Regions from separate parts of the Homo sapiens genome. Here regions 2 and 3 are each linked to region 1. Evidence: fine-mapped expression QTL. A gene starts in region 1. Each other region holds a variant in brackets. All regions are shown on one strand. Distances are between the middles of the regions. Region 1 holds the start of PDCD6IP-DT (PDCD6IP divergent transcript). Region 2 has its middle 95 kb from the start of PDCD6IP. Region 3 overlaps PDCD6IP (programmed cell death 6 interacting protein).

What was found.
Region 2: its variant is fine-mapped to the expression of PDCD6IP-DT in breast (GTEx, PIP above 0.99). The same link has a PIP of 0.9 or more in skin and whole blood.
Region 3: its variant is fine-mapped to the expression of PDCD6IP-DT in subcutaneous fat (GTEx, PIP above 0.99). The same link has a PIP of 0.9 or more in left ventricle and stomach.

Annotation. Positions count from the first base shown.
Region 1 is chr3:33,794,705-33,802,993 of GRCh38, reverse strand. PDCD6IP-DT (PDCD6IP divergent transcript) reads left to right here and starts at 4,475. Exons shown (of 2, transcript NR_183731.1): 1 at 4,475-4,599; 2 at 4,972-8,289. It overlaps PDCD6IP (programmed cell death 6 interacting protein), which reads right to left and starts at 4,364. Exons shown (of 18, transcript NM_013374.6): 1 at 4,057-4,364. The coding sequence starts at 4,265. RefSeq lists enhancers at 3,668-4,201, 4,148-4,497.
Region 2 is chr3:33,888,059-33,899,234 of GRCh38, reverse strand. No RefSeq gene overlaps it. Among named protein-coding and RNA genes, the nearest start is that of PDCD6IP, 95 kb to the right of the region's middle. The variant A/T (reference allele first, on the strand shown) is at 5,069.
Region 3 is chr3:33,821,367-33,829,366 of GRCh38, reverse strand. PDCD6IP (programmed cell death 6 interacting protein) reads right to left here. Exons shown (of 18, transcript NM_013374.6): 4 at 7,285-7,412; 5 at 4,027-4,180; 6 at 2,787-2,887; 7 at 398-514. Among named protein-coding and RNA genes, the nearest start is that of PDCD6IP, 27 kb to the right of the region's middle. The variant T/C (reference allele first, on the strand shown) is at 4,305.

The DNA of each region.
Region 1 (8,289 bases):
GAGGGAAGGGAGCCAAAGCAGAAGCCAAATCATGCCAGAGAAGCCAGAAAAGGATCTGAATTAAGAAACATGAGGTACCTCTGAAGGTAGTTCAATGTGAGGCTGGAACGAGAAGGTATGGTTGAAAATCCTTCAAAGAAAACTTCAGGCTCCCAGATCCTCTACTCTGAAGGTAGGTTCACTCTCAAAAAAACGTCAGAGATTGGCCGGGCACAGTGGCTCACGCCTGTAATCCCAGCACTTTGGGAGGCCGAGGCGGGTGGATCACCCGAGGTCAGGAGTTCCAGACCAGCCTGACCAACATGGAGAAAGCCCGTCTCTACCAAAAATACAAAATTAGCCAGGCAGAGTGGTTCATGCCTGTAAATCCCAGCTACTCAGGAGGCTGAGGCAGGAGAATCGTTTGAACCCGAGAGGCGGAGGTTGTGGTGAGCCGAGATCATGCCACTGCACTCCAGCCTGGGTAACAAGAGCAAAACTCCACCTCAAAAAAAAAAAAAAGAAAAAAGAAAAAAATGTCAGAGATATCAAATATAACTAAGGTGGAGATCAAGCACTGCTAAGTGGGGTAGGGAGTGCTAATTGACTACATCATTATCAGTCTATCCTATTCCTTATTAACAAAACTGTGTCCCTTTAGCTGAGTATACAGCTGCTCATAATGAAAATTCCTTTTCCTAGCATCCTATCAGAAGGACACACAAAATGGCCGGTAACATATAGGCAGGGTGTTGTGGAACAGTTGCCAGGAAACACCCTAAAGGGCGAGCCCCGTGCCTTTCTCCATCCTACTACCTGGAACTTGGATATGATTGCAACCTGGACCTGAGAACAATATTCTAGGTTTCAAACAGCAGAAAGCTGAAAGGAATCTGAGCCCCAATTAACTCCACAGAAACACTACACCAGCCCTGGGCTACCAGAACTACCTACCTGCCAACTTTTTACAAAATAAAATCTTAACTCAGATAATTTGGGATCTACCACACAGAAATGAACCTAACCCTAATGCAGGTGTCATACTAAAAATAGATGTACCTGATAGACTGCATACATGATTGTTAAGATCCCCAACCTCCATTCCCCAGGATAAAATTTAGAAAGCTGATAAGCAGACTTTTTCATGGAAGACTAGAAGCTTTCTCTCTAAAGAAACTGATCACCACAAAAGAAATTACACAATGCTGGTAAATGGTATATCTGGAGCTTCAAATAAAATACAAAATAAAAATAAAAAACCAGCAGGGTTCCCATTTGATCACCCTAGGTCACCATTTACCAAGGTCTAATCAATTTTTAGTAAAAGCCACTTTATAAAGGAAGAAGTATCATATAAAAGGGTTTTTTGTTGTTGTTGTTTTGTTTTGTTTTGAGACAGCGTCTCAGTATGTAGTTCAGGCTGGTCTCCAACTCGTGGGCTCTAGTGATCCTTCTGCCTCAGCTGGAATTATGAGTGCATGCTACCACACCCAGAACAAATGAGTTTTTAAGTACTCATTCTCATTATTATAATATGCATAAATGTATATTTTAGGAAATTTTAATAGAACACCTACAAGTTAGTAATAAGAAAACAAGTCTATCACTGGAGCAATATATGGAGCTGCATATCAGGACTTATCAAGCTGGCTTCAATTATTTAGGAATTAGTTTAAACTCTGTTTTTCAAAGTTCATTAGTTTAAAAAGTTCATTAAGTTAAAAAATTAATGTTAAGTTTACACAATTATCCAAACATAATTATTAAAAATAAGATATTCTGCCGGATTTGAATGAACATCACACAACTGATTCACATCTAATTTTACAGCGTATATACCTACAAAACTTTTGTACCTACCTCCATTATAAACTTTAGTAATATCTCCAAGCTTACCCTAACCCCTCTAGAAGCCCAAAAAGTGAAAATACTTAATATTTGTTGAATTAATGTGGCAGGAGGGGATTATACAGAGGTGACTAAAGAAACATGGTTAGTTTCAAAGAGACTATATCTACAACAGGTCCACTACCTAGGAACAGTTCACACATTTAAGTCTGGTAAAAAGAATAAAGGAAGGAACAAATGAATTAAGTTTTAAAGTTGACAGGAGAACCGTATCCAAACCATTATCCACCAACCTCCCATGTCTGTTAGCTTAAAACCCATGCACCAAGTGCTTCTGAAGACCCCAAATCTGAGGGCTGGAACCAAATTTGATATATTCAACAAGATTTTTATCACAGGGCTCATTATACCACAACTATGTTTTCTTAATATTACTAATGGAAAATCCTCACTGAATGCTATTCATGCCTACATAAAAATTACCTTGAAATTGTTTAATTATGTTAATTCTAAAGAATGGCTAAGTATTTCTAGGTTAACTTTAAAAAAAATGCTTATGCTATTAGACTAATGATCCTTGCAGCCCAACAGTTGTAGCTCTAAAATTTGACACCAAGGGGTCTTAATTCCTCTGAGCAATCTATTCAGTACCCCTTCCTTCGGAGAACCAACCCTTCCCCAGTCCGGACTCATCTTGCTTTGATCCATGGGGTAAGGAGAAATTAAACCGGCTGGATGACTCAGATAAGGGCAATTAACTTAGCCCATTTCCCACCATCATAAATGGGTGCAAACAAACCCAGGAGCCTCCCATGGACTTCCACCAGAGCTAAGGAGAAAAGCACTCCCTTCTGTAAGATACTGAGTGTTGCGGACGATTGTTATTACACTACAGCCATCCCTCTCAATACATGAACAAAGCTTTCGAGGGAAGCATCACGGAGGCAAGACGATCTCCAGTGATACCTAAAGCTAAGGAAGGAATATCCCTAGACTTTTCAGTTAGCAGAATAAGTCTTACTTTTTTTTTTTTTTTTTTTTTTTTTTGAGATGGAGTCTCACTCTGTCGCCCAGGCTGGAGTGCAGTGGCGCGATCTCGGCTCACTGCAAGCTCCGTCTCCCAGGTTCACACCATTCTCCTGCCTCAGCCTCCCGAGTAGCTGGGACTACAGGCACCCGCCACCACGCCCGGCTAATTTGTTGTATTTTTAGTAGAGATGGGGTTTCACCGTGCTAGCCAGGATGGTGTCGATCTCCTGACCTCGTGATCCGCCCGCCTCGGCCTCCCAAAGTGCTGGGATTACAGGCGTGAGCCACCGCGCCCGGCAGAATAAGTCTTTTCTTAGCTCAAGCTAGTTTAGCCTGGGTTTCTGCTACTTGGATTGGAATACAATTGTGATTCTCCTGTGAAACAAGTAGAATATACTATACGGAGAAAACGAGATTAACAAGGTATGCAAAAGAAATGTTTAACTATAAAATCGTAAAAAATGTTCTTATAACTATTAAGTATCATGAAAGGAACCCTCATTAAATCAGCATGAGCTAAATAAGCGTTTGCTAAAATAACAAATTTACTCTACTGTGTATATATCTGTTTGTGAACAAACTGCTTTTAAACAACCTACCTTGAACGGTTCAACTATGTAACTAGAGTTTTATTTCAAATAGTTGTAGCTCCTAACTTTCAGAATTCTCCATCTATCATTTGATTATTTTGAACTGAGGAAGACGGTCCATTTCATGTGGACAATGTGATGAGCTGATCAGACATTTGGTCCAGTGTCCCAATTCCCCCACTTCCCCCACTGCCTTCAAGCAACTACTATTATGAAATCAAAATGTGGCCCAAGAAAGACAGTGATGGAAAAATGGGGCGAAAGGGGAAGCTTCAGTTAGAGACCCAAAAAAGTGAAGACTAGTTCTAAGTAAATGTGGCAAAAGAGATCAGTACAGGGCAGACTGCTGCTCCCAGGTATCTGATCCACGGAGCCCTCGCCGACCAAGGGCTAGAGCAGACGTGCAGGCAGGACAAGCGGGCAGTCACAGCGGGCCTGCAGGGCGGGTCCTGCTCACCAGCAAAGAATGCAGACCACACCTACGCGCCTGGTCAGGCCGGGACGGGGCGGCTCCGCCCAGGTTACAGGATTGAAGGAAGGGGGGAGACGGGAAGAGGAGCGGCGAGCGACGGCTGGCAGACAACCTACCCACTCCCAGCCCCGCGCCCACCTCAGGAGCGTCTCGAGCGCGCCCTCGTGCTTGTCCAGCGGACGACCGACTGCGGCGCGGCGCAGCTTGCTGAGCTCCTCCGCCGCGCGGCAGTACTGGGCCTGCTCTTCCCCGCCGCTTGGGTAAGTCTGCTGGATGAACTTCACCAGCGGCTTGGCCAGGTCCACCTCTGAGGTCTTTTTCAGCTGCACCGAGATGAATGTCGCCATGATCAGCGCCTCCGCCGCCGTTCGGGCCAAACAGACCGCGGACAGCTTACGAGGGCCGAGGAGAGAGAGGTACTGGGCTGGCGGACTGGCGGACTGACTGGCTGACAGACTTGCGCTCCGCCTGCGTTCCGGGTCCGGCAACTTCCGGGAGCTCCAGCGCAGGCGCACTGGATGCGGGGTCCTTAAGCTGTCCGCGGTCACGTGAAGGTGTCGCGGCGGCTACGCCCACCTGGACCCAGTTTACCCTGTACTGTGCTGCAAAATATTACTTTCTCCCCATCTGGAATTCTTCCCTTCCTCCTTCCTGCCGCAGTGGTGTACTGAGCACTTTCACGTAAGAGTATTCCTCCACTCGAACAACCCCCCGGAGAAGTACTGGTGTCACTGCCACCTGCGAGAGTTTGCGGCTACCTCCCCAAGAGGCAGTCCCAGGGTTATTGTGACCTATGATGTTTATTCAACTACTGTTGACGGGCTGCTGTGCACAGGGAACCTAGTAGGCAAGACCCCTGCCATCGTGCAGCTTACTGTCAGGTTGACACAGACCTTAAGGTAAACGGAAAAAGTATCAGGAAAAAAACAGGGTGCTTGGGACTTAGGAGATGTTAAGATCGCTTGGAGGACCCTAATTTAAATAAGATAAAGTAGGTTTTCTCCGAGTAGGTTAACTGAAAATGAACCTGTGTCTCTGGTTGCTGTTTTGTAGAAAGAACAAAATTTTAAATAAATTAAAAACGACACCTGTAATTTGAGAAGATGCTTGATATCAGAAGAGGAGAAGAGTGGAGAGGGGTGGAGTGGCAAAGGAGAGCCTCCAAACCAAAAGCCTGCGGCAGAGGCCCTAGGAGGCAAGCACTTAACCATGTTTCAGGACTAGAAACGAAACATGTGACAAGACCTTTAAAAACAAATAGAATGGGATGGAATAAAGTTGGATGAGTAAGCAGGCATCAAATCATTCAGAAACTTGTTGTCCAAGTTGAAGAATTTGTTTAGTATTGTATAATAAATGCAGAGGAAGCTATATACACTTATAATTTACATTTTTTAAAGGCCACGTTGTAGCTCAATCGGATAGTTTGTCTTTTGATGGGATGTAGTATACAGTATCATCATGGTATATTCCAGGCAAAAATATTTAACTTGAATCTGTCAAGCCTTTGCATCTAACACAGTTTATAAAAAATACAACAGATAGATGAACAAACTAAATGATGCCAGAGGAAGTAACTAGACAGATCCAGAAGGTGAAACATTCTGCAGGATAACTGGCCCATCTCTTCAACAATTTGTCATGATAAAAGCAACTGCTTTATGAAAAGAAATTTAAGGGACATAACAGTTTGAATTGGATCCTGGTTTGAACAGACTGTCTATAAAATGCATTTTCAGGACCATTAAAGAAATATGAATGTAGATGGACTGAGTATTGGATAAAATAGAACTGTATTGCCATGGAAAAGATCATTAACTGAAAAGAGCAAGTCACGAAATAGTATGTTACAGCATCTCATTTTGGTTTAAAAATGCACATATATGTATTTATGTACAACTAAAAAAATAGTGGGCTTATACCCTAAGGTGTTAGTATTGGTAATCTTTGGAAGTGGAAATGTGTATTTTTTTCTTTGTGTTTGCCTATCTTTTTCATTGTAACTTTTGCAGCACATAGACTACTTTCATTATAGTAAAAGTTTATTTTACCACAATTTTTTTTTTTTTAGAAAGAGTCTCACTCTGTCACCCAGGCTGGAGTGCAGTGGCACAATCTCAGCCCACTGCAACCTCCACCTCCCAGGTTCAAGCTATTCTCCTGCCTCAGCCTTCTGAGTAGCTGGGACTACAGGTGCACACCACATGCCTGGCTAATTTTTGTATTTTTAATAGAGACTGGATTTCGCGATGTTGGCCCGGCTGGTCTCGAACTCCTGGCCTCAAGTGATCCACCCGCTTTAGCCTCCCAAAGTGCTGGGATTACAGGCGTGAGCCACTGCACCCGGCCTATTTTACCACAATTTATAAAAATTTTTGTTTATTTTAATTAAGCTATTCTATGTTAAAATAAGTAGCCACCCTTGGCTGATGCATAAAGAAAAAATTAGAGGAAGGAAAGAATGGAGGCAAGGAGGCAAATCATGAGACCATTTCAGAAATCAAGACGAAATCAGGAAAGCTAACATTAGCAAGAGTGAACCAAACTGATAATATCTTTGAGTTTAAAACTGAAGAATTTACCAATGAACTGCATAGGAAAGTAAAGAAAAGAGAGTGGTCAAGATAGGTCCTGGTTTTGGGGCCTGAACATCTGAGTGGTTAGTAGAATCATTACCAGTTGATAACCCATGGAAGAGGGTGGGGGATGGGTGGTGTCTTGTAGGTTGGTTGACAGGACTGACCCATTGGGAAGATAACGAAGAAGCAAAGTATATGAAAAGAGGAGAAAGGGTAACCAGAGGAGGGAGGATACAAAGGGAGTGATTAGCCATCAGAAAGATGAGGGACATGACATTTGTTGAGGCAGATGGCGGAGAAAAGAAAGTTAACATAGATGTGGTTAGTTTTGTGGCATTGACCAAAGGAAGATTAAGGTGATACTATCTGATGGCTTGGAATGAAAACCAAACTCCCTGCCACAACATGATGATCTTTCTCTGCAACTTCATATTTTGCCTCTTGTTCCTCATTTGTTACCACTGAGTCACAATGGTCTTTTTAGTTTCTCAAACACACCAAGATCTTTCTTGCCTCATGTGACCTAGAATGTTTTCTCCCTTTCTTCATATCTCAGTTGAAAGGTCTCCTCTCCTCATCATCATACTATCTAAAGTAGATTCCCTCCCTTGTTAACCTCTAGCGCAGCCATTAGTTCCTTCATAACACTTACCCTAACTTGCAAGTATTTTGTTTGTTGATATAATTTTTATCTGACTTCCCCACTAAAATGTAAGCTCCATGAGGGCAAAAATTGTGTGTTTTGTATACTGATGCATCTCTAGCACTTGGTATAGCAGGCATTCAATAAATATCATTAAATAAGTTTCACCCTTGTAAAAAAAAAAAATATATATATATAAAATATATTCTCTACTTCCAAAATAACACACTTTCACCAACAACAAGCACTCCAGCTAATTAGGCAATAGGCCAATAAGCAAAGAATTATGGTATATTAGTCAAGATTGGCTAGCTTATGTTCTGACAATAAACAATTTCAAAATCTCAGTTTCAATTTTAAACTCAAAGATACTAATAAACATTTGTTCTTTGCTCACACAAAGTCTAATATGGAACAGGCTTAGAGTTGTCCTCCAACCAGTGTCTGAGCAATCCAGACCACTTTGATCTTGTAACTCTGCCATCCCAACATGAGATTCCACTTTCACTGCAGAAGAGGAAATCTGTAGCATCATGCAGCAGCTTGTCACTACCTCAGCCCTCCTACTTCCACTTGCATTTCACTAGCTAGAACCTTTCACATGGCTCCACCAAACTGCAATGGGACTGGGAAGGGAGAATCAGATATTAGGGAGCATTTATAATGCCTTCCAAGGGTGTGTTTCACTGCTTCCAAACTTGCTTATGATGATGTTTTTCATTTATGTAATGAAATGCCATATGTTCTTAGTGTGTATTCTCAGCATAACGAGTACATTTGGAGAATATTAAGTCAGTGGACTTTCCTTCTTGAAAATTCCTGGTTCTGGGCCTATCATTAACCCCACTGATTGAACCAGTGGAAATAGTTGCCTCTTCGAATGGAGAGAACCCTGCTGAAGGCAGCTTTGAGTTTCAAAATAGTGTGTTTCAAGTCCACATGGAGACGATAGCCTGAAAGTAAGCACTTATGATTTTTGGAGGAGTCTTTGTTATTAAGGAGAAAAGAGGCTTACAGAAGTCAGATTCAGAAGACTGTAGTATTTTTACAATAAATGAGAGTAAACAGTATAAGGATTTGATGTAAGGGAAGTTCCTGCAGTGCAAGAAAGAAAGTCCTTTTGGTGCTGAGCGGAACAGTCTAAGAGAG
Region 2 (11,176 bases), 95 kb before region 1:
ACTCAACTCGTTCATCAACACCTCATAGCAGCATCTCCCAGGTCTCTGAGCCCCAACACGTTGTAGAATCATCCATGACACTCATTCCCATGTCACAGATCTGTTTCCATAAAAAGCCTCTCCCTTCCAGACTGGGAAATCCTGTAGCACAGCACTAGGCCCCTCCCACCCTGTGACTTCAGTACCTGGTAGTGAAAGAGTGCTCACTCTGTGTATGAGGAAGGAGTGACTGGTCACAGGAGGCTTGAGCCAGCAGAGAATAGAAGACAGACATAGAAGCCTATAACACAAGGCTGAAAGTGACAGATTCCACACAGGTCCTAAGAAAGGGCTCCTGGACACCACAGGATGGAGAGGCCACAGAGACTAAAAGGTGCCATCCCCACATCCTAGACACTGTGCAAACTCAAGATTATAACAGGCCTTAGCTCCAGTGAGAGGCGCACCCCTTTCATGCCTAGAAGAATTACAGCTGTACAGACAGAGCAGAGCAGAGCATGGATGCACCAAAAACAAAGAAACAAAAATGAGCCAATCCTCCTTATAAATATCATTGCAAAAACTCTTAAATATTAGCAAACAGAATCCAGAAACAAATTTAAAAATTAATACTACCTGGCCAAGTGGAGTTTATTCCAGGAAAGCAAAGATGGTTCAATATTAAGTAATCTATTAAAATAATTCAAAAAATAGTTTAACCACCTCCAGAGATGTTCAAAAAGCATCTAACAAAACTATATATCTTCTTGAGGACAATTTCATTTAATAAAAATAGGACTATTTCAGAGACCTGTAGAAACTGTTAGGTGTTTCCAATATGCATCCTTTCCTTGCATAGTAATTAAGTACCTGAATACTATGTGGACACTTGGCTGCCTAGAATAAAAATGGTATTCTCCTAGCTAAGTGTAACCATGTAACTAACTTCTAGACAATGGGATATAGGCAGAAATGGCATGCACAACTTCCTGGACATATACTTAAAAGAGGAGAGAATGTCCATTTTAGTCCCTTCCCTCCTTCCTGCTGGTGGGAAAGTGGCACAGCTCCTGGTGCTGGAGCAGCCATCTTGGACCACAAGTGGAAACTGAACATTGAAGAGAGCAGAACAACAATGAACCTTAATGTAAACAGAATTTGGTATGCACAGGTAGGAAGCTTCAAGTTACAAAGCCTAAAAAGTGATATTATCCAGTACAATTAGGGAGACAGCAGACGGCAAAGACGTAGACATGGGTACTTGTCTAAGCTGCACATTTTTGCACATTCTTACATCTCTGAAAGTGATCTGCATCCTAAAGCTAAGAGCATCTGACAATTGTCATAGGCCTTTTTTTTATATGTTAACATTTTTGAGTAAGATGTGTCTAACAATTACTAACATCTTACATGAAATACAGTACCACAGGCTGATAATCTGGTGACTCTTACTCCATACAAAGCTCATGGGTGAGTTAAACCCTCACAGGTGGTATCTTGAAGACAACCTGCCAAAGGAGGCTGAAGCATTAGGAGAAAATCTTAGTTTTGGTGGGCATTAGCTGCTTTTTTGTTTTCTTTCATGCAACTCTACAAGACAGATGACCTCAGTCTAGAGCCAGCCCATCAGAAACAGAGATGGAAGGGAAAATAATTTTGCTAAGAGAGGTACTTTCTGTCTGTGGCTGAAAACCTAAGTTGACTGATAGTGCAGTATTTTTATGGCCATGAGCAATAAAAGACAAGGAAGAAAGTTCCCTTGGGCAGAGGCAGGGACACCAGTAGATAATGAACAGGGCATTTTTCCCAGAGAACAGAAACAGGAGATCCAAGTAGCCCCACCATGAAATGTGTTCTACAGCCAGAAAAGGGAATCTTTGCCATTAGAGCTCACTGTAATCTCTGCCATGGACCAACGTCTACAGCATTTCCCATTTTCCCTTTTGAGCATGGGAGTTTCTGTTGTGATTATCCTGTGTCCACTGAGTGACTGTATGTCAGCTGTGTTGTGACTAAATAACTTTTCTTTTAGTTTAAAGACCACCAGACCAAGACAGTGGCTCACACCTATAATCTTAGAGTTTTGGAAGGCCAAGGCAGGAGGATTGCTTGAGGCCAAGAGTTCGAGACCAGCCTGTACAACACAGTGAGACCCTGTCTGTACAAAAAAAAAATGTAAAAATTAGCCAGGCATGGTGGTGTGCCTGTAGTCCTAACTACTTGGGAGGCTGAGGCAGGAGGATCACTGGAGCCCAGGAGTATGAGGCTCCAGTGAGCCATGATCACACCACTGCACTCTGACCTAGGTGACAGACCAAGACCCTGTCTCTAAAATAATAATAATAATAATAATAAACCAAAGGAAGCCTATTTGGACTTCATGGGCAGAACTGGCCTTTGGTCAGAGGCAGGACCTAAATGGAACTCCCCTTGGGGCAGGAATTATTATGTTCCACATAGAAAAAAAAGCAGATACTTAGCTACCGTAAGCAGTTGGTTGTAGCAGACACTGCTAATGACAGATGCTTTGTTGATGTGATAGATATATGTATCTCAGTCTTTAAACCAGCCTCATATTTAATGGGAAAACACAAGACGCACTCTCATTAAAGTCAAGAAAAAGAGAAGAATGTCCACCATTGCCCTTATTATTTAACATAATTCTGGAAATTCTATCCAATGAAGTCAACAATAGATGGAAATATAAAGTACAAAAAAAATTAAAAGTGAAGACAAAGATAGGAGTACTTGTTACTGATATGATTATTAACCAATAAAAGTCCAAGAGAATAAGATGAAAATCTATTGTAAACAATAAAACATTTTGTAGGTTAGAGGGATAGAAAATTAATATGGAGAGCTTAATAGCCAGTTAGAAGGTAACATAGAGGAAAACATCTCATTTGTAATAACCAAAAATGATAAAATACATAGAAATAAACTTAAGATGTGCAAAATCTGTGTGAAGAAAAGTTTAAATTACCCCTAAAGGATGTATAAAAAAAAGACCTGTACTAATAAGAAGGTATACCATATTCTTAAATAGAAAAATCCTTTACATGGGCAAAGAAAGCTTTTCAACAAACATCTCATTTTAAAAAGCAATTTGAGACATTATGATATGTTACCATATTATAGTAATTAAAATAATAGGGCAGGACACATGAAAGAATAAATACATGAAAGGAACAGAATGTAAAGCCCACAAAGAGGCCCATGTGAGTCTGCATAAATAGATAAACACATCACATATGGTCAGGGTTACACTTTAAGTCAGTAAGAAATGGTTTTTTTTTTTCAACAAAATAATGTTTGGAAAACTAAATAACTGATAGCAAGGCCACCACATTACAAATATTTTTTCCTAATTTGTTGGGGTTTTTTTACTTTCCATATGGTGTTTTTTGCAACTCAGGTGTTTTTTTTAATTTCCATTTTTGTTTTATGTAGTCAAATGCATCAATCTCATTTACTATGATATCTGGGTTTGTATAGTTCTTAGAAAAGTCTTGCCCATTTTGAGATTAAAATAATTCTATTTTCTACTAATATTTTATGACTTTACTTTTTAAATGCCCAAATCTTTGATCTACCTGGAACTTATTTTAGTGAAAAATGTGAGGTAAGACCAAGTTTATTTCTTCTAGTGTGACTTCACAGATAACCAAGCTGTGTTCAGTAAGAAAAGAAATCCCTTCTCTGGTTCCAGGTTCTTGCCCCGGAACCAGATGACTTTACCATTCTTGGCATTAGAAAAGTACTTACTGCAAGGAGTCAAACAGCCTGCACTGGATGGGGCCCCTGTCTTCAGCACCAACCCTACACAATGAAATGTGTACCTGTCAGTGACCCTGCATTGCCTCCAACAAGAACAGGCTGAAGGAATTTGGGACCCTGCCCTGCTTTTCACTGCCATCTCACTGTGGCTTGCTCTCTAACCTCATTATCTGGGATGAAATACCTTGTGGTTCCTGAAATTCACTGCTCACCACATTCCTTGACTAACTCATTTTTCAAAACTAAACTTTGCCATTAGTACTGGAAGCCTTGCTTTACACAAGACACAGACACACACACACACACACACACACACACACACACACTAAACTACACTTTCCTTACCCACACCCGTCCCTCTGGGTAGTCCCTCCCTTTGCTCCCAAACCCCTTCACACACACTATGACCAAAACAGAAACCACATTCCACATTGTGCTGTTCACTGCTGTGTATCTTCCCTTCTAGACTCCAAACAAATATATCTGCTGCTTATGCTGTCTCTTCAGTTAGTGCAGAGGGGTGCTGAATAAATGGTTCCTGAATGACTAAAGGTCTTCTAAACCTGTTCCATTAGTAAGTATTTTTCTAATGCCAGGAATGGCAGTCTTCAAGAAGAATATGATGTTCATGAAACTGCTATACATAATGTCGAAAAATGCAAATTATAAATGCTTAATTTGCAACAGAGCCAATAGTCAGCCAGCCACCCTGGTATGCGACAGCATGGCAGATTTTTTTGCAAAAATAGCCCAAATTATTCTCCTCCCTATATCAACACCTCTTTTCAATGTGACTTTGCACATCCTTCCATCCAGAAGCAGAATCTGTGTCTGTCGTTTGGGTCTGACCCTGGGACTAGCTTTGGCCAATGAAGTATGGCAGAAGAGACATTTTTGCCAGTTTCGAGCACAGGCCTCGGGGATCCTTGCATGTTTTTGCTTGTTTTCTTGGAACTCTGTCCTACCATAAGAAAAGCCTAAGCTGGCCTTCTGGTGGATGAAATACCTGTGGCGAGTTATCCCCATCACTCCAATTGACCTTGCAAGATCCAGAAGCAGATTGCCTAACTGATCAGCAGCAGACCACAGACACATGATTGATGCTAGTCAAGGCCATAAGAATCACCTAGCTGATGCCAGCACAAATTGCCAACCCACAGTTTCACCCCAGGGATGCAGGGATAGTTTAACACATGCAAGTCAATAAATGTGATACATCACATAAACAGAATTAAAAACAAAAACCAAATAATCACCTCAATAAATACAGAAAAGTATTCAATAAAATCCAACATCCCATTATGATTTTTTT[A/T]AAAAAACCCTCAACAAACTAGGCATAGAAGGGACTTACCTCAAAATAGTAAAAGTCATATATGACAAACCCACAGCCAACATCATACTGAATGGGGAAATTTTGAAAGCATACCCCAACAACTGGGACAAGACAAGGATGCCCACTTTCACCACTTCTATTCAACATATACTGAAAGTCTTAGCCAGAGCAATTAAACAAGAGAAAGAAATAAAGGACATCCAAATTGCAAGAGAGGAAGTCAGACTATCACTCTTCCCCAGTGATATGGTCATATACCTAGAAAACCCTAAGGACCCCGCCAAAAGACTCCCAGATTTGATAGATGAATTCAGTAAAGTCTCAGGTTATAAAATCAGTGCGCACAAATCAGTAGCACTGCTATACACCAACAACAAACAAGTTGAGAATGAAATCAAGAACTCAATCCCTTTTACAACAGCTGCAAAATAAAACAAAATACCTAGGAATATACTTAACCAAAGAGGTGAAATATCTCTACAAGGAGAACAACAAAATACTGCTAAAATAAATCATGGATGGCACAAACAAATGAAAACACACCCCATGCTCACGGATTAGAAGAATCAATACCATGAAAATGATCATACTGCCCAAAGCAATCTACAGATTCAATGCAATTCCTATCAAAATACCAACATCGTTTTTCACAGAATTAGAAAAAAAAATCCTAAAAATCATATAAAACCAAAAAAGAGCCCAAGTAGCCAAAGAAATCATAAGCATGAAGAACAAATCTGAAGGCATCACATTACTGGAATTCAAATTATACTACAAGGCTGTAGTCACCAAAAGAGCATGGTACTGGTACAAAAAGTAGACACATAGGCCAGTGGAACAGAATCGAGAACCCAGAAATAAAGCCAAATACTTTACAACCAACTGATCTTTGACAAAGCACACAAAATCATAAATTGGGGAAAGGACACTCTGTTTAATAAATAGCACTGGTGATTCTAATGCCCCTTCCAAAGATGAAAAAGTTTGGGTATTAATGGAAAGAAAGAGAAATAGTAGCTAAGAGTAAAGAAATAAATAAGTGGGTTATTAATTGAGGAAAATTCAATATTACATTAACGACCCAAGAGTCTCAGAGCAAAAGATGACATTGTCTCTTAGCTCATTATTCCAGATACCTGTAAGGGTGAAGCTGTATATTTACCAAGGCCACTCCTGCTTTTGGAACCTGAAAAGATTGTGAGGAAACCTACAAATGTGAGTGGCCTCATCCTGGGAGACATTCATACAATATGATAGACTGAACTAGTTATTAATGATTGTGTATACAGAGATAGATAGATAGATAGATAGATAGATAGATAGATAATAGATAGATAGATAGATGTAAAGGATCCGTGGTTAAAAATCAGGAGTGGCCTGTGGTGTTATGATATATATTGATTTTCATCCACAGTTCTGGCTCATAACTCCCATAACCCTTGTTGCAGTCTTTTGTTATAATGCTGGGTGTGTTAGGCCTCTGACCTTCTCCCGCCCTCCTTTCACCTGCCCCAAGGTAGGACTCTAATGTTCTCCACCTTTCTGATTGTGGATGTTTAGACTCTCCCATGAGAGGGTCGCACACTATCCCCTGGGGCAAAGGAATACTGATGTAATGAAGCTTCCATAAAAACTCAAGAGGACTCAAGAGGGTTCAGTGAGCTTCTGGAGAGCGAACATAAGGAAGTTCCTGGAGCAGGGCCCACCCAAGGAGAGCATGGAAGCTCCAAATCCCTTCCCCTATACTTCATCCTATGCTTCTCTTCATCTGTATCCTTTGCAATATCTTTTATAATAAAATGGTAAATTAAATAAATTAATAAATGGTGCTGGGAAAACGGGCCAGCCACATGTAGAAGATGAAACTGGATGCCTATCTCTCACCTTACCCAAAAATCAACTCAAGATGGAGCAAAGAACTATTTAAATCAAAGACCTGAAACCACAAAAATTCCAGAAGATAACCTAGGAAAAACTCTTCTGGGCATTGGCCTAGGCAAAAAATTAATGACTAGGACCCTAAAAGCAAATGCAACTAAAACAAAACTAAATAAATGGCACCTAATTAAACTAAAAAGCCTCTGTACAGCAAAAGGAATAATCAGAGTAAACAGACAACCCACAGAATGGGAGAAAATATTTGCAAACTATGCACTCGACAAAGGACTAATACCAAGAATCTACTAGGAACTCAAACAAATCAGCAAGAAAAAAATGAATAATCCCATCGAAAAGTGGGCAAATGACATGAATAGGCGTTTCTCAAAGGAAGATCAGGGAAATGCAAATTAAAACCACAGAGAGATACCACCTTACTCCTGCAAGAATGGCCATTACTAAAATGAAAAAAAAAAACAATAGACGTTGGTATGGGTGTGGTAAAAAGGGAACACTCACATACTGCTGGTGAGAATGTAAATTAGTAAAACCTGTATGCAAAACAGTATGAAGATTCCTTAAATAACTAAAAGTAGAACTACCATTCAATCTAGCAATCCCACTACTGGGTATCTATGCAAAGGAAAAGAAGTCATTATGTCAAAAAGACACTTGCATGTGTATGTTTATTGCAGCCAACTCACAGTCGCAAAGAAATCAATCAGTGTAAGTGACCATCGAACAATGATAAAGAAAATGTGATATACATACACACCATGGAAAACTACTCAGCTATAAAAAAGCACAAAATAATGTCTTTTGCAGCAACTTGGATAGAGCTGGGGACCATTATTTTTTCTTCTTTCCTGGCCCACTGGCTACAAAGGAGAGGAGGCCATTATTTTCAGTGAAGTAACTCAAGAATGGAAAACCAAATACCATACGCTCTCACTTATAAGTGGGAACTAAGCTATGAGTATGTGAAGACATACAGAGTGAGATAATGGACTTTGGAGACTCAGAAGAGAGAGGGTGGGGCACAGTGAGGGATAAATAAACTACACATTGGGTACAATGTTCACTACTCAGGCGAAGGGTGCACTAAAATCTCAGACTTCACCGCTATGTAATTCATCTGTGTAACAAAAAACCACTTACACCCCAAAAGCTATTGAAATTTTAAAAACTATATTAATTTTTAAAAATTACAAACCCACAGAATTATGGGCTAAATGGATTGTTTCTTTTAAGTCACTCTGTTTTAGAATGGTTTGTTACACAGCCAAAACTAACTTATAAAACCGGTTATTAAATTGTTGCAGGGGCCAGGCACAGGGGCTCGAACCTGTTCCAGCACTTTGGGAGGTCAAGGCGGGAGGATGGCTTGAGCCCAGGAGTTTGAGACCAGCCTGGACAACATGGTGAGACCCTGTCTCTATAAAATAGATAAATAGATGAAAATGAATTGTGGCAGGAAGATCGCTTGAGGCAGGAGTTTGAGACCAGCTTGAGCAACCTAGCAAGACTCCCACCTCTACAAAAAAAGAATTTTAATTAAGAAAATAGTTACATTTCTTCCATATCAGTTAGTAAATATTCCCTACCCAACCTCCCAACCACCAACAATCTACCCTACAATCCAGCAACAAATGAATTAATGTCAGGTCCTACAGAGACCTCCAGGACATACTCTGTTTCTATAGCCTAGAGTGTTCTGATTGATCAATATGAATATCAGTTGTTAAATATTTTTGAAATTACCACTGGTCAAAGGAGCATGACTAAGCCAATTATGATATCTCAAAATATATAGTTACTAAAAATAACTATATGAACTGTATGTTTATAAAATCATGCTATAAAATAATATTAAATGGAAAAGAACAGATTACAATCAACTGATATGCATTCATTATAATAACACTAAATGCCTATGTGCACATTGACAAAGATGAGAATTGAAATTGTAGTACCAAAAGCTTGGTGGGGTTTTTTTCTCTGTACTGATTTTATTTTAGTGCACAAGAGAAAACAACTATAATTTTTCCAAGTAGAATGTATTTAGAAACTTTTCTTCCTGGAATTGGGAATCTCAGAGCAAAGCCCTAATCTTGAATATAATGCATTAAGAAAAAGTGTTTAGCTTCCTATAGGCAATATGTCCTAAATGCCCATTTAAATTTCTATTTTTAAAGGCTAAAAATTTGCAACATGAAAACAAAATCAATGTGCTCTAGAATCAATCATACTCATTTAGGCTAATATTTATTCATCTGTAAATAACTTTGCTTAATAAACTCCTATTCCCCAACCCAACATGGAAAGAAACCCTGTTTTTGCCAAGTCAGCTCCCAGATTTTTGTGATGCAAAAGTTATAAGATGAGTATGGCAGACATTGCTAGCTTCTTACACAATATCCATTCTTCCCTTATCTATTCAGGGCCTTATTTCCAAGGCTCCCTTGTAGCTAGCAATGGCCATGTGACCGTCTCTGGCCAATGAGTGTAGGGAGAATTCTACCGGCTGGGGCTTCCAGAAAATCAATTGTTTTTCTGATGTAAAGAGACCATTCAGCAGGCACATATCTTTTGCTTTTGGCCATTCCCCCTCTTCTAACCTGGAATGTAAGCATGACGCCCAAAGGTGCAGCAGCCATCTGTGAGATGAAGCAAACCATCCACCCTAACTGGCAGAGCAGAAAACCAGGAAGAGCTTCTGGCACAGCTGTGGAGCATCTGCCTATGGACTTCTTGTCTGGGGAGAGATTATAAATCTCTTACTTATTTTAGCCACTGTAATGAGGTTTCTGTAACATACTGCCAGACACAACACTGGCAGATAAAAGAGGGGAGATGAGTCCTGAGAGACAGGAAGAAGGTAGGGAGGATATGCGCAGAGAGGCCAGGTCAATCTCTTTAATAAAGAACTAGATGAGGAAGGAAGAAGCAAGAGAAAAATCAGCTCTGGATTGTGGTTACAGGAGCAGCTTGGGTGCTGGCACAAGAGACCATCCGGAGGAGCTGAGGAGTAGAGGCAAGGGTCCTTGAAAAGTGGAACTGTGGCTGGTGACTCTTATCCCCTCGAAGTTCAACAGAGTCATGCAGCAAATGGAATTCCTTCTCAAGTACTTCTGGCTGCTGAATTTTGTTTTGTTTTTGTATATGGAGAACTCTGCAGAGACTGAGCCATGTGGAGGCCCAGGGTTCACTAGGGTTATAGAAGAACTAATCTGGGAAAGTTATAGATGACAAGGACAAGTGTTGCTGTAGTGAAAAGGGCAGAAACAAGGAAGCAAGGGATGTGAGTTCAAGTCCTCATTCTTTCACAATCTGCTGTGAAGCATTAAGCAAGCACTTTGTCGCATCTTGCTTCAGGTGCCCTTTTGTAAAAGCAGAGAGGCAGACCAAATGTACCCTAAGAACCCTGTCAGCTCTGTGACTATAGTATTCCAAAAGCTACTGTAAGGGCAGGACATCTGGACTCCTAGAAGGATATCCCTTCCTCATGTAGCTTTTCTTCTTGTCTTTGATGGCACTATATTGGGTGCATGAGGGTGGGGTTTGCAAGGAAAAAGAGGTCCAATTCATTAACCGATATTCCAATTCAATAAACATCTGCTGATCACCCGCTCTGAGTTGAGCACTCAGATTAATATGGCCAGAGGATTCCATCTAAGCTCCTTAGCAAGCCCCAGAGGCCCCCACCATAGGGCCCTGTCTGACTCCTTGGGCTTACACCCCCTGGTTCTCACCCACGTCCTTACTTCTGGTGTCCCTCAGCCTACTGGGATACTCGGTACCTCCCCAGGCCTACTCCAGATATGCCTTCTTGCCTCATATGCCCATCCCTTTTTGACCTTCCGATCTGGGAAACTCCTACTCATCCTTCAGTGCCCAGAGGTGGAGGGGTGATGGGGAAGCAGCCTTGAGAGTTTTCAGCTGGTAGCTGGCCTCATCTCTACCTGCTAGACTGTGTTGTCCCCTGATGAACACAAAATCTTTCAGAGAATATCAGTAGCAGTTGAGAACTTCAGAAAGACTTCAGAAAGAACTTCAGGAGCAGATGGCTGCTCCATGATCAGACCTGAACAGAGGTAAAAACAAAGACCCTGTGCAATCACAAGAGTGACCAAACCTCCCTCTCCCTAGGCTAACATGAGATGCTGCTGCTTCTTTTCCAGTGATACCTCTAACCCCAGTATTAGTACA
Region 3 (8,000 bases), 27 kb before region 1:
AATTATTTTTACACTAAAATAAACATGACCAAAAAAGAGAACTGAATGCAAATTCTGCATGAATTTTTCAGATAAAATATGAGACCTCAAAAAACCATGCAGTAAAGTCTAAAGACAAAAACAATCTGGAGATGGCAATTAATTTAGAATTATTTTTACATTAAAATAAACATGGATAAAAAAGAGAATTGAATGCAAATTTTGCATCTATTTTTTAGATAAAATATGAGACCTCAAAAAAACATGCAGTAAAGTCTAAAGATAAAAACAATCACTTGTCCCTGCTGATAGGGGTGATGAACGGGAAAGGTTTTTATGGGCAAACTTGGAAATCTCACTAGGAAAAAAAAGAGAGATCCAAGTTAGTTACTTAAATATTTATTACCAAGAGACTCACCTGTAACCTTGCAATTTCTTCTCCAAATTTCTTCTGCTGTTTTGCCAGGATAGACTGATGGTACTCAGCATTGGCCTGCATGATACAGTGCTTTGCAGCCAAGACAGGGAACACCTCCTGGAAATAAAAATACTGACCAGGGGAGAGTCCAACCACACAAACCACCACAGACAACATGGGATGCAGGAAGAAAAAGGAAAAGAAGACAGAAATTAGAATCACCCCATTAATGGTTTAGAGATTAAGGTTAGTCATTAGGTGTAAACAGAGAAGACGACATGATTTTGTGTGGATTGAAATCTATGAATTAAATTTTTTTTCTTCCAATTGAAGGGGTTTTTTTTAACTGTTAACTGAAGCCAATTTAGGTTTTTACAATTCTCTTTAATTGATCCATGAAGTCAACATTTTGTTTACAAAAAGAAAAGCATGCATTATTAGAAAGAGAAGTAGAATGGACATTCACAGAGGAACACAAAGCACAGAGCTTTAGAAGCTTTCTTATGAGCCCTTACCCAGCCTGTAGAGTTAACTAAACCATCATTACTCACATATACTAATGAAATTGCTCTATAGATTACTGTTTCATCATGTTTTAAAAAAAAGACAGTAAATTTTCACTTAAATTCATATCCTAAGAGAGTTCTTACTGAAGATGATTTTAGCCATATAAAAATGATTTAGTATCATAGATACACTAATATTTCAGTGTCATATACTCAAAAACATATCATAGACAAATGCACTAAGTATATGACCAATGATAATGATAAAGTGTTATTTTGCCTATTTGTTTTGAAAATAATTCCAGTCAAAATTAATTTCAAAAGATCCAAAGACATAAAGCAGGAAAGCAATTATACTAGTGGTGGCTCTTCCAAAACGTCAAAATCTAACCTGTAACCTCACTGCTTTTAGGAAGTATATGATATTAAAAAAATCCAAGGAATTAGGCTAGACAATCACTATCTAAACAAAAAATGTAAGAGAATCAAAAACTGAATTACTACCTTGTGTGCTTTCCTGTCTCCCAGGGAATAATTTCCTACCTTCCTGGATCACTACTTGCAGACTTTTCAGTTTTATAACTAGAATATGAAAATACCTTATGAGCTTTATTAGTAAAAAGGAAAAAATAAAAGACATCTAAATTTCAAACTACACTCATGCCAGTTCTCAAGGTAAGGCTGGAGCAACTTGGTTCTGAAACAGGAGATTTTCAAGGAATACCAGGAATGCTGCAGAGGTAGCTTCCAAGTCTTTGTAGGTGACTTTCTTCTCTCCATGACAGGACTGAACTAATGGCCCAACAGGATGTAACGGAACACTGTGCAGCTGAACATGAGGTCTTTCAGATGAAAAAAACATGAGAGGAGATCCCAAGTCTCTTTTTAAGAGGAAGGCTGTTAATACCCAAGAATCCTGGGCAAATTTCTACTAGGCTCTTGGTGTATCTTAAATCCCCAGGAATCGTCACATTAATTCCTTATTGATCATTTTCTGAGTAATAAGTACTGTTAATGCACTTATGTGCATTTTTACTTCACCCCCAAGTTGTCTGCAATTTTTTAATGTACAAAGATTCCTGAATATGACTTACAAATCAATAAATTCCCCTACCAAAAAAAATCATGTAACAGATACCATATGATGAAACTAATTCCTTGAACATTTCTGAAGGAAGTAGTTGAAACATATATTTCACTCAATCTTTAAGTTTTCTTTATTAATCATTCCAAATTTACTAGTGATTTGCTTTGTCATTAACAAATGATCATCACTGAATAGTCTTTACAATTGTCACTTCAGAAAGGTTTACATTAAAACATTATACTTCCTGTGATATGTGGTTTAAGATGGTTGCTTTCCTTAGCTGTCCATTAGCAGCCCAATTTTTTATCCCTGTTGGCAAAACTGAATTCTAATCAAAGTATCAGATGAATTTGTTAAGTTTTCTTTTCCTTTTTTCTTTATGTCTGTTTTTGCGCTTTAAGGCTCATCTTTAAGAAAACAGGACAATAATTAAAAGTGTGAATCATCAACATGCTCAAGTATACATGCTTGTACCAAATCACCAATGATTCAGAACTACACAATGCCTTGATTTGATAAAAGTATTGAAAACAGATGGTCAACATTTTCCAGAAAGAGTTCTAGCTTGGAAAAACAAGTTTAGTAAAAGGTAAAGACAAAGGCATCCCCTAAACATAAAAGAATTGTTCATGCATCTTAAATTAAAAAAAAAAAAAAACTATTTCTACTATATACTTCAGATAACTCTATTAAAACTTCAAATTTCTTTATAAGTTTCAACTTGCTTCTTATACACAAAAAAGTCTAAATATTTCACATGCAAAGTAAGCAAGTGTTTATAAAAACAATAACTGACCTTGGGGAGAGTATCTTTGTATTGACACTGTTTGAAAGCATCACCAAAATAATCTGCAGCCTGATTAGCCAATTTAGCTATGATGGCATCTTTCATTTTATCTGGAATACAATATGACCATTATAATTAAAATAAATATGAGCTAATCTGACATGTCTCAGTATAAACACTGAGGTCACAAGTTTGTACACGCATCTGAAAACATCTTTCTTGATGAAATCACATTTTCTGCACAAAATTTAGAACAGACAAAATAGATTAGTGGTTGCCAGCAGTGGGGGAAAGGGGAGTGAGGAGTGACTGCTAATGGGTACATGGCTTCTTTCTGGGATGATGGTAATGTTCTAAAATAAGATAGTGGTAATCAAAACTCTATGAATATACTAAAAATCTTATGTTGTATACTTAGAAAGGGTGAACTTGAGTGTATATAAATTCTATCTCAATATAAGCTGTTATTTTAAAAGAAAAAAGTATTCCAATTCCTATTTCTTCCACATGATGACTTATCTCTTATTTTCAGTTTCAGCCCATATTACATATTCAGCCCATTTTCAATCTCTCATGCTAACTTATATGCCTTATAAGAATTATTCTTATTCCCTCATTCCCAGGGCTAGGGACTGTGCCTGGATGACTCCTTCTTGTCATTTAGGTCTACTTTAAAGAGGACCTCCTGAAAGAAAGCCTTCTTGACTAATGAATCTAAAATTAGCCCAGCTTCCCCTATATCCCTATCCCATAACCATACCACCAGCCACTATCATATAATTCTCTTATTTTTTATAGCAATTATTTCTGAAATCTTATAGCAATTATTTATGAAATTATCCTGTCTACTTAATTCTTGCTTATCATCTCTCCCGTCGCCAAAACCTAAGTTGTTTTCTAACTCCGTTTATCTAGAAACTAGAACAGTGACTGGCACAGAGTAAGTATCCAATAAATATTTGCGAATAAATGTCTGACATGTTAAAAACATACATAAATACTATTCCAGAATGGAGTGTTTAAAGACAATTACTAAAGATCTATTTCATGACTTCAAACACAGCCTACATTCTTAAATGTAAATTTGTGCCACAAATTCAGAAAAGGATAGCTGAAAATTTTCCATAATTCATGTATCAAGTTCAAGAAGGACAGCTCGACATTGAACATATTATATTCTAATCACTTTCTTAATTTAAAAGCCTTATCACTTTTTTTCACATGCAACAAAAAGATAAATTGGAGTTACCTCTTGTGGCTTTTAAAAAAAATACTTCTTGAGCCTGTGCCAGCATAATAAGACTGAGGGTCCCAACAGTATCTGGAGATATGTCCACGGTCGGCTCTCGACTTAAGGCAGATAAAACCGTCTCTTTAATATGTAAAAAGGCACCACTAGCAAACTAAAGGGGGGAAAAAGAATTTCTTTATAGGAACTCAGCAAGACTTAATTTCCTACTGTTACATATAAAAGTCATTTCAAATGTTAACTCAGTGAACAGTTAATATATTTAAATTTTTATATTA[T/C]GCAAAACCAATCTAAAACATCTGACCTACAGACAATAAGGTTATCTTTCTAAAACTCTATAGCGTAACAAGAGATTTAACAAAGATTAAAAGTAAATTACAAGGAAAAACAAAGTAAACTAATGGAACAATCTGATTAAACTATTTTTAGATATACTTCCTCAAAATTAACATGAGAATAGAGGCGGGGATAAACATTAAAATATTTTTAGTACTGCAATGCTCTTGCTTTGGTCCCAAACAAATTCATCTTTCAAATAATTAAACATGCCGTAGTTAGGGGACACCCCAGGTAGTACATACACCTAGTCCTCTGAGGAACAGCATTACTACCCATTGCCAGTGATTTCTGTCTGGCCTTCAGAGCTCACTAGTGAAATGTTCCCCATCAGATTTTTCATCTCAATTATATTTTGTTAATACTAAAATAACTTTGCTTTCATGAAACAAATTATACTAAGAAAAAGAAATAAATCAGTCTGGGATTAAAAGGTGTCATGAGTTGGCCGGGTGCGGTGGCTCACGCCTGTTAATCCCGGCACTTTGGGAGGCTGAGGTGGGCAGATTACCTGAGGTCAGGAGTTCAAGACCAGCCTGGCCAACATGATGAAACCCCGTCTCTACTAAAAATACAAAAATTAGCTGGGCATGATGGCACACACTTGTAATCCCAGCTGCTCGGGAGGCTGAGGCAGGAGAATCACTTGAACCCAGGAGGCGGAGGTTGCAGTGAGCCAAGATCACGCCATTGTACTCCTGCCTGGGCAACAGAGCGAGACTCCATCTCAAAAAAGAAAAAAAAAAAAAGGTGTCATGAGTTAGATAAATAGACAACACAGAGAAAACTCAAAGTCAAATGTATTAAAATGAACAGCATGTTTCTGCAGTCAGTAAGTATTATAACACTAGAGTATCTGCTAGGAATGAACAACTGAACTTGTTCAGTAAACTAGTGAATCAAAGTCTACAACAGCAAAGTGTCTGAGTCTCTCATTTACAGATAAGGAACTGGAGGTACTAGAGAGGTTAAAGAACTTGCCCAACGGCACAAAGCTTCTGGGTGGCAAGCAGCCTAGACAAGGACCTAGGTCTAATACCACCAGTTATCTTTCCATGATACCAGGTGCCCTGCTGTGAACCCTCACAGAATGGAATGTTTCTTTCATAATTCAGAATGACCTTTCTAAAATCTCATATACTAACTAACTGAGTTACAGTTAACCAAAAGCTAAATAAAATTTTACTTCGTTTTCACTACTGTATTTTATTTTATTTATTTTGAGACAGAGTCTTGCTCTTGTCGCCCAGACTAGAGTGCAATGGCACAACCTCAGCTCTCTGCAACCTCCGCCTCCTCGGTTCAAGAGATTCTCCTGCCTCAGCCTCCCGAGTAGCTCAGACTACAGGCGCCCACCATCACACCCAGCTAATTTTTCTATTTTTAGTACAGACAGGGTTTCACCATGTTGGCCAGGCTGGTCTGGAACTCCTGACCTCGTGATCCGCACACCACAGCCTCCCACAGTGCTGGGATTACAGGCGTGAGCCACCACGCCCAGCTCGTTTTCACATTTTAAAATATTTGCCATGTATAGCCTCAAAAAGAAATAGCGTATGCATTATGTTTGTCATCTATGCCCATTCAAAACTGTAAGGCAAGCCACAATTTGGAGCGTGTTGTTTGCTTACGGTATATTTTCCTTTTACTTTCTCAGAACAGCATCACTCACCTCTTCCCTAAACATAAACAACGGGAAAAAGCAGACTACCTCTGAGACAAGCAAATTTCATGGGAGGTTTGGGAGTGAAACAGTGGAAGGACATTTGGAATTACATGAAATTTGGAATCAGAACTATTGAAACCCAAATAGACTGCTTTATTAAGACTTCGGACCTTTAGCCTCCTCGTATGTAAAATCGGAATGACATTATATGACATACATCACAAGGTTTATCTGAGAGTCAAATAATGTACATGAAAACACTTTGTAAATTAGAAAGTAATATAAAATGACAACATGATTATATATATATTATTTAACAGTAATCATTTACTGTTCTTTTAACCAAAACAAAAAAAAGCTGAATAAATAATAAACAACTGCTGGCCGGGCATGGTGGCTCACATCTGTAATCCCAGCACTTTGGGAGGCCGAGGTGGGTGGATCATGATGTCAGGAGATCAAGACCATCCTGGCTAACACAGTGAAACCCCATCTCTACTAAAAATACAAAAAAAATTAGCCAGGCGAGGTGGCGGATGCCTATAGTCCTAGCTATTCAGGAGGCTGAGACAGGAGAATGGCGTGAACCCAGGAGGCGGAGCTTGCAGTGAGCCGAGATTGTGCCACTGCACTCCAGCCTGGGCAACAGAACAAGACTCCGTCTCAAAATAAATAAATAAATAAAATAAAATAAACTGCCACAAAATAACATGCCATATTAGTAAATGATCAGTACGTAAAACAGATTAGGCAACTTATGAACATTATGTGTCTGACCATATTTAAATATGACCTCTCCACAAGTCTCAAAGTTAAAATTTTATTTTCTTGCCAATTTCTTGTCTTTATTTTTGTAACAACAGTGAAATTTCAAGTGTGTCTCACTCTAAGAAAACATATGAAAATAATGTACAAATTTTTTTTAATTAGGTAATTTATTTAAAATGGATTTACCCTAAATGCCTGAGATGAAATCTCAGACATTTCATAATTTCTTCAACCAACAATTATTGAGCCTCTATTATGTGCCAGGCACTGTGCTAGGTGCTCGGTATAAAACAATGAGGAATAACAGACCTGGTCTATAGACAGTTTATCTAAGGGCTTTAACAGTAAGAATAAATTCATTTTAAAAGTGCATTCGTTTTAGAAAACATCTGTTGCGTAAGAAGTATCTATAAACCTAAATGCAAATTATTTTCCACTTAATCCAATTTAGTGTTGACCATTATTGTAGTAACTACTTTTCAGCATACCTGGTAATGTTTAGCAGCGATTTTCAATCCTTCATCATTATCCAGGTTCTGTTCTGCTGCAATTTGGCTAGCTAAGGCTGCACAATTGAACAACACACAGCTCTTTTCATATCCTAAGCTTGCAAGAGCTGTAAAAAATTGAGAAGGAAAAATTCATCAGATTATTTTTTCTAAAGAAAACAAATGTTTCAAAGAGAAATACTATGACCTCTCTCATCCCGCTGACTCTCACAAAAACAAGTTTCCAGACCTGTTTTCTTGCTGTCATATGCTCCCATATTTCAAGCTGCCCTTACAGGCATTTATTTCCACAACAATATTCCCATCACCCAAAACGCTGAAGAACAGTAAGTTATTCTTTCTCTCCTTCCCTTTACTTCCACATTTCTATTACAATCAAATTCAAATGTAAAAGTCATTTTCATGTCATTTCTCTCAGTTTCTTAAATTTGAATAAATTATTTCCATTTTTCTGTCACCTCTCAAAATCACATTGTCCCACCACAATCAAACCAATTCCTCATTACCACAAATCTAAGTCAATGCAATTACCTCCTAGCTGGCCTTATGCTTTACTCCCTCATGCAAATACATTTCTCAAAGGGCTAGCAGGTTAGCTGGGCTAAAACCCAACTCTGATTAAAAAAAAAAAATCTACACACCTCACATCCACTTAGGATAGCTCCTATTAAAAAACAAACAGAAAATAAGCATTG